Linked DNA regions of Homo sapiens: regions 1 and 3 are each linked to region 2. Evidence: fine-mapped expression QTL. A gene starts in region 2. Each other region holds a variant in brackets. All regions are shown on one strand. Distances are from middle to middle.

Region 1 (2,767 bases), 840 kb after region 2:
TTTAAAGCATGAAGGAGATGGCATTCCAGTAGAGAATGTGTTATAGCTCTTTAGTTAGTACTATATAGTTTGATAGAGTGGGTTAGCACCATGGTTTGACATTTTAGCCATGCGAAGTTTGATTGTGAAGGATGGTGTCAAGTCTGCAAAGAAAAATGTTTCTAAATCAGTAAGGCATATTCTCACATTAAAATGGGTAAGTCACTTAAAACAGAAACAAAAAGAGAAAGCACAATGTCTATAAAATATTATTTTCATGTGTGAAAGGACCCAGTTCTGTTTCTCATTGGGCCCTATAAGTTTTCATACCTTATCCAGCCTAAATCGTTGGTGGTAAAACAGTGAGAAACATCCCCACACTCCCGCAGGAAACAGTATTTAACCACTGATGCCTCTAGAAAAGACATTGTTCAGATAGTAACATTTTGAGTTTGTAATGTTGTGAAAAATGTTTGCACATCCCTACACCCAGAGAAAAAATGGAAGAAAATGAAAGAACAAAAAAAGAGAGGAGGTAAGAAAAATATAAATAAGGAGGAGATTAAAACACAGAAAGGTTGGTTACTTCTGCATTTCTGCGTGGGGATTCATAAACACAGAAGGGGAGGCTCCATTCTCACACTCGCCCTCTAGGTGGCAGCAGCACACGCCAGCGTGCACCGCCCTGAGCATTTCAAAAAGCCGAAAGGGGCTGCGGGGATAAAGGGAAGGCCAGGACCCACGATAGGAATTGTGGATGGGGTTTCTGTGCGTCAAAGAGGGGATGGTGACAGCGTTCCAGGTGCCACTGTCCTTTTCTGGAAGAAAATGAAAGCACTACCGTGTCGAGTCTAAATGCTAGAAAAACAGTTAGGATGGGGTTTTGTGGGTTGTTTTTATGTGTTTATTTATTCCATATTAACTCATTTACATACCATTAATATCAAACTACATTGTTTGCAACTACATTATGTACTGTTTCAGAGAGTCTTGATTTTAAAATGTCACATTACATCCTTATTAAATAAGTTCCCTGAGGGTAGAACTTTCTTTTTCTTTTTTAAATCCAATGTCCTCTCTTGATATAGGTACTGGCCCAAGTAACAAACAGTGTGCTGTACATCCTGCAGTCGCATATGGATGGAAAAACAAAAAGGCATCCCCACCTCGCTTCACCCAATGTCTTACCCTAGAACTCTAGTGTTTTCCTAGCAATCAAGGGCAGACATGATACCCTTAGATTAGATGACACATTTAGAGCTCAGCATTTGAGAACCACAAATTTCCTCCAGGTAATGTAGTCTCTCCCCTCTCCCAGTGGTCACCCTCACTTGGCCTCTTTGTAGTAAACTGCAGAGCTCTTCTCCTCCAGCTACATGAGAAGGAAAGAAAATTAAGAGCCCTTCTCGTAGATGTAAGAAGAGGAAGCAATCTCACGTCATGTATACATAGACCCTCATAGACACCCATAAGAAAACCCCTCTCTTACATTTATTTTATCCAACCACATTTCTAAGACATGTGACTGAATAG[C/G]AATCATTTACCCTACAATGAACACGATGGTCTCAACTTCAGCCACAAAAATATCTCCAAAAACCAAGAAACTCATGGCTCCATGCTTTCTTCCATTTTTCTGTCTCCTTGCTCATTCTGTAGGCCCCCGCTGATAACTTCCCAAATTCATTTCCCACTCCTACTGTACTCCAACCCATACATCCACCTATCTTCTGAATGATTGTTTGAAAGTCTCAGCGTGTCGCAATGCATAATCCCCTACCACTTCTCACTCTAACACCTGTGGGAACGGCACCACTAACATCTAGTAGCCAAACCCAGATACACAGCTTTCACTCTGATCTCCTTCCTCTTCTACCTTAAATCAATCACCAAATCCTATTCACTCTGTCTCGAATGCCTCTGGAATCTGTCCATTTCTTTCCTTCCCTATGGCTACCATCCATGTGGAAACTATCATATTTTTAACTTGAAAACTGCAGAAGCTTCTTGACTAGACTTTCTCCAGTTTTGCCAACTTCAACCCAACCCATGCTCAGTAATGTAATCCCAGCAGATTTACAAAAACACAAATCTAATCACATCCTATTCCCACTTAACCATTAAAAGGTAACCGAAATTCCTCAGTGGGACTATGCTGCCCCCGTGACCTAGTTGAAGCCAGCTAGGCCGAACATTCATTCAGCTCCTCAAATCTATATCCAGGCCCTTGCTCAGCTTTCCTCTCTCTGTAAAACATTTCCTTCCAGCTTCTCTTGTCCACCACCACCACACACACTCAAACACTCATATATTCTCACACACCTCCCTCATCCCAACTCAGCCTTTGCAGTTTACCTTAAACATCACTTCCTCTGGGAAACTCATTACAGCTCCCTGAAGTAGGATCGTTATTCCTAGCACAGTGATTCTCAAAGTATGGTCCTGGGACCAACAACATCAGTATCACCTGGGCGTTCACTAGAAATGCATATTTTTAACCTCCTGCTTCCCTAGACCTATGAAACCCTGATGGTGGAGGCCAGCAGTTTGTACTGAAGAAGCCTACAGGTGATTCTGATGCTGGCTAAGGATGGAGAGTCACTGCCCTACCACGTAGTCCCATAGCATCCTGCATTTACCCTCCCCAGGGCTTCTCCACATTTACTGCATGGTAGATTACCTGTGGTATGTTCCTAATGCTGCAAAGCTGGGCTTTATCCCCAGAGGTTTATACTTAGTCACCCTTAGATGATTCTATCATGCAGCTAGGGAAGCTGTGCCTGACTGTGAA
Region 2 (2,767 bases):
ATCTGATAGTGAGTAGCCTTTAAATTGTTGTTGTTATTATTTTATTGAGTCCTCTTTGTATTTACAAAGATTAAGGAGTTTCTAACCGTATCTACACTTGTAATAAATGTTATTCTTAGTCTTCACACTTGTAAAGGATAATGGTGATGAATGCAGCGGCAGAGGCTGCACGTTCCCACCCAGCACTCTCACTGAAGACTGCCTAATCAGCACTGGCTGCTGGTACTTTTCTCTGCAAGCTTAGTCTCTTCCAGGAATGACAGGTGGTAGGTAATCCTGGGAACTCAAGAGCCTCCTTGAAGCTTGGACTGATTAGAGCACAAACCATGAGCTGTTGAAATCTGGTCCCTGAACAGGAGAGTTTTTGACATGAAGCTGCTCTAGATTGCTGTAGGGCTGGGTCTCAGATCTGGTGTATCTGCCTGTTTCCATGAAAAGAGCGGAATCTTCAAAAATACTCAGGCTGTTTGTCTATTCCTCTAATAAAACTTCTATTGATGTTATATAGAATCTTGAGCAAAAGATTTGGCATCGCACCTTTTATGAGTTTCAATAAACCTTGTGATTTAAATAGTTTCATCATTGATGACAGTCTTTGGGTGAGGCCACAAGAGAGTCGCTTCTCGAGTGTCCATTAGTATATGGTGGGAAGACAGGAGGTCAATACTAAGGCTAGGAGTGAATTGCTACTGGTGCCTTCTTGCCTCAGACCAGCGGTCTTTTCGGTGTTCATGTCATAGATTGTTGAGGTCCCCTCGTTGTTTAATGTTTTGCCTCAGACTCCCGCCTGTAAACAGTACACATCTTTCTCCCTCACTTTAGCTGCTCATCATTTAAGCTGTCATTGGTCAGACATCCTAAACTTTCTCATTGTGACTAGGGCTCTGAGGGTTCCAGGGGTTCTAATTATTATCGTGGCTGCAGTGTAGGTGTCCATCACCGAGATGGGGCACCTGAGCTACTGAGCAGCCAGAAAAAAACTTTCTCCTTATCCTTGGCATCTGCCATCAGTTTAAGTACTGATTTAGGAATCTTTACGGCAAAGAAGAGGCTCTTCATCCCCGGCCCCATCCCCACCGCGCCCACCCGGCCCACATACACCCTCGGAGCCTGCTTTCCGCAGACTCCCCTATGTCCTGTCCTTGACTCCAGTTAACCTGGAGATGCTAGTTCTGGGAACTCCTAGAGGCTCTGTTGCCTCCTCCGCCTGCTCTGCGTTCCCCGCGTGAGCGCTGGATTATTCCAGTCTTTGAGCATGGCAGATTTCCACTGGATGACATCATGGGAGCCCAGTGAATGCCGGCTCAGAGAGGGGGACGGAGAAGGGGAGGGGGAGCAGAGGAGGGGAGAGGACTGGGGAGCCGAGCCAGAGCCGGGCTGCCTGCCACCCGGCTGCTCGTCCGCTAGCTGGGGAGGAGCGCTCCACCCGCAACTGACAAAGGATGGGAGAATGCCCGCGCCCCGGGATGCCGGCCGCACGCAGCCTGGCGGCCGCCTGAGCTACTTCACCCTCCGCCGGTAAGTGACTGCAAACATCATTCATTCAATCAGCCTCACTGGGAGCCCCTTCTCTCCGGCTGGTAGTCCTGGGCGGCTTGTCCCTGATCCCGAGCGGGGCTTGGCACAGCATCAGCCCTGGAGGGCAGGCAGCAGGTGCCTTTGCCTGGTGGGTCCACTGGGGAGCGTGGCTGGGGTTCGCGGCGGGTGCTGCCACCCAACCTGCGGGCGGCGGGCTCGCCCAGTAGGCGCCTCTCTGGTGAGAGGAGGCGGCTCCAGCCCGCAGCCTGGGGTAGTTGCTACTATTGGCCCCCAGCGCCCGCTCTGCGCGCGCGCCGTTTCTGGCGGATCCCCAGTGCGCGGCGCGCTGTTTACACCGGCGTGGTACTAGTCACGGAGCCGCACCCCTCGGAAAGCGCGGAGTCGATGACAGCCACTTCACAGGCTCACGCGCTCCTAGTGTGGGCTTGAAGGGGACGGGGACCGATTACCAAAGGAGAGCGCTGAGTACGGAAGACACAGGGCAGCCTTTGTCTTGGGTTTAGCGCTGATGCGCTCAACCCTGAGTCGGGTTCACTGCAACTGTTGTGTCCGATTTCGGTTCCCTGCAACCGCCCTCCTGGGCGAGAGATGTCATTGTGTTCCTGCGGCCAGCGGGACTGAGAGCTGGGACTTAAGACGCCAGGAGGGTCCTGCGCTCACGGGTGAGTGTCGCAGTTATCCAGGTGCTGAGGGAGTTTCTGGAGCTCCAGGAAGTGGAGTGACCAGTCGAGGCAGAGAGACGCCCAAGTTTTATCCCCAAATGGTGTGAGGGAAATGGCAAAGTTAAGGGAGACTCACTCTCGCTCTTTTCTCTGGTTTCTGAAGCGCTGATTTTGGAGATTTGTGACAGGTGAATGGAATCAGAGGCATGGCCAATATGTAGTTAGAGAGCCTCACGTTTTCCTGGCAATTCTTATTGTTATTCAGTAGTTCCAGAAAAGATTTGCTTGCTAAACATTTTTGAGATCAAAATGTTTTCTATTATAGAGCTCTGTGGGTTTGACGAAAAAAGATTCTGAACCTGCTCAGGTACCTTAGTTTAGAGTTGTCTCGCCTATAAGTGCTATATAGCCAACATGCCAACACCCAACCCCCTGGCTTTTTGCTTGGCGGACACAGGTTTTATTGATGAATTCCTTGTTTAGGAGGTTCAATTTTCAGATCACAAGGAAGCGGTGGTACCTATCAGAACATCTGTTTCTAATGTCAATGTGTTTACAAAAGGAAT
Region 3 (2,767 bases), 760 kb after region 2:
CCCCAGAAATATCCTGGTGAGTCTTCCTCATACCCTTCTCTACCCCCACACCCTCTGCCCAAACCACATTCAACCCAGGGTGGATAAATGGAGAGTAAAGGCAGTGGAATTTCAGTCTTTGTTTTTCTCCTCCTGTCCTGCTCTTCAGCAGCAAGTAGTAGTAAGCAGAGACCCAGTGTTCCTGTATGCTGCAAATTTTTCTTCAGTCGTACCTTCTGTCTCCTTTCTCTATAGATTGTAGTAAAATTATGCCCAGAACTCCAAGATCTCTTATAGATATATAAAGCAAAAATTGGGAATTTAGAAAACACAGTTTTCTTTGTTTAAAAAAATCAAGCTTTCACAAATATTCTCTCACTGAAATCTCAGAAAAAAATCTAATACAAAATTCTAAGTAGGATAGGATCTCCTTTAACCTAAACCAGTGGTTTCTAACTCTGGATGGGCGTTACAGTCACTGGAGCAGCTTTTAAGGATACTGACATCCAGATGCTGTGCTACAGGTCCATTCCTCACAGATTCTAGAATCATCAACCTGGGCAAAGGTATTTTTTAAAAACTTCCCAGCAATTCTTATTTTTAGACAGGATTGAGAGTTACTGGTCTAAGACTGTTATGTGTCTTCCTTCTGAACAGGAGAATACCATTGAGTTCATGTGTGGGGAGAAAAAAATGACATACTGAGAATTAGTAAAAAGAATTATAGTATTTCAAGATCAGTGTCCTATTACAACTCTTAGACACTCTACAAAACAGTTATCAGATCAATGATTTCATGTTATTATCCTCACAATCCTTTTATGTGGATGTTATTATTGACTACATTTAATGAAAGGGGAAGTGGAGCTCTAAGACTTTAAATAAGCAAAGAGTTTATCACTTAAATAGTGGAGAACAAAACACAAATCTTGATTCTTGATGTTAGTAGTTGTCATTTATGACATCATCAACGTGACCAAAGAATTACTTTTCTCATTATTAAATTAGAGATTTTAAACATTACGAAATATACAGCCTGAGAAATAAAGGTTTCCAATGATCCCAACTCACAGGTATAATCACTGCTAATGGCTAGATGTGTACTTTTCCAGATTTTTTTCTGTGCATACACAAACAGATAGCAATAAAGCACTATTTACCCTAACAAGATGACACTGTATACAATTTTGAAACTTTATTTTTCTCCTAAAAATATATTCTATAAATGTGTGTGTGTGTGTGCGTGTCTCTCTCTCTCTCTCTCTCTCTCTCTCTCTCTCTCTCTCTGTGTGTGTGTGTGTGTGTGTGTGTGTGTGTGTGTGTG[TGG/G]TGTACCTCATTCTTTTTATGGCTTATGTATTTCATTGTAAATAATGAATTAACACTTGGGTTGTTTCCAACTTCTTGCTATTACAGATAATGCTGTAATGAACAATCTTGTAAATATATCTTTGGACAATTATAAAAATGTTTCAGCAAAATTAATTCCCATGAGTAGAATTTCCAACTTTAATGGTATACATTTTTTTATTTTAATAGAGTTTATCAAATTTCTCTCCAAATAAGTTGTACCAATTTACAGTTACTTCAACAATATATAGCAACGCGTGGCTTCCCCACCTCGGCTACACTGGGTATTATCAATCTCTTTAAAATGTGCTGATCTGATAAGTTAACGTGGATACCATTGTTAATTGAATTTACATTTATCTGCTTATTGAGATTGATCATCTTTTTACACAGGGCTTTTGGCCATGTATAATTCCCTTTCTGTGAACTACCTACCTGTTTTGCTCATTTTTCTGTAAAACTGATCAACTTTTCCTTCTTGATCCGTGAAAGATCTCCAAATACTAGAGAAATTAGCTATTTGGCTATCATATATGCAATAAAATGAGGCATTATTTATGAATTCTGGTTTTGTCCAGGATGGTTTTGGTATATGGGTGTATGTGTTTCCTTTTTATAAATTAGAAGTTTTTATTTTTTAGATCATCATATTTATCTGTTTTCCTATATCACATTTTGTTTTACATCATCATAAGAAAAGGATTTTTTCCACCTATTATAAACATTAATTAAACATAAATTATGTTTTTCTCATACTTTGATGGGTCTTTTTTTTTGCTGTATTTAAATCTTGCATTTGCCTAAACTTTACTGTAACCAGTAGACTCAGGTTTACATTCTTCCAAATGACCAGTCAACGCCATTTTTTTAATAACCTACCTTTTCCCACTAACTAGAGATGCAAATTTGTCTGTACCGAGAAACAGAAAGATACATATAGACAGATAGATTCCTAGCCTCTCAGTTCTATTCTAATGATGTGTCTTTCCCTGTGCCACGTGCATATTCTGTTAATTTCTAGAATTATACTACATTTAGATGTCTGGTAAAAGTATCCTCATTTCTGGATCCTACTGAGTTTTATTAAATAATTTTCCTGAATCTTTTCCCCTGTGTCACTTTTTCAGTTGATCTTTCAAATTATTTTTACCATATCTTAAAATAAAACAACCTGTTGGGATTTGATTGCTCAAACTATCCCTTTTCTCCATCCTCACTGCATCCTGGATATATGGAATCCTAACTCTGCTCTTTGCTTTCAGACAACCCTGAACCTTCCAATTCTCAGCTGCCAAAATGACCTTTCTAGTACCCAGATTTAATAAGTTCTATTTCCTGCTGAATACTTGCAATAACTTTTCATTCTTTTCAGGATGCAATCCAACACGTCAATGTAACATTCAAAACCTCCATCTACTTTTTCATCTTGACTATGTACCAC

Evidence for each region.
Region 1: its variant is fine-mapped to the expression of MARCHF1 in sun-exposed skin (GTEx, PIP 0.94).
Region 3: its variant is fine-mapped to the expression of MARCHF1 in lymphoblastoid cells (GENCORD, PIP 0.95).

Annotation. Positions count from the first base shown.
Region 1 is chr4:163,542,450-163,545,216 of GRCh38, reverse strand. The region is part of intron 9 of MARCHF1 (membrane associated ring-CH-type finger 1); the gene reads left to right. Among named protein-coding and RNA genes, the nearest start is that of TMA16, 49 kb to the right of the region's middle. The variant C/G (reference allele first, on the strand shown) is at 1,513.
Region 2 is chr4:164,382,621-164,385,387 of GRCh38, reverse strand. It overlaps MARCHF1 (membrane associated ring-CH-type finger 1), which reads left to right and starts at 1,369. Exons shown (of 10, transcript NM_001394959.1): 1 at 1,369-1,518. RefSeq lists an enhancer at 1,640-2,141.
Region 3 is chr4:163,619,106-163,621,872 of GRCh38, reverse strand. All of the region lies in intron 5 of MARCHF1 (membrane associated ring-CH-type finger 1), which reads left to right. Among named protein-coding and RNA genes, the nearest start is that of TMA16, 130 kb to the right of the region's middle. The variant TGG/G (reference allele first, on the strand shown) is at 1,304.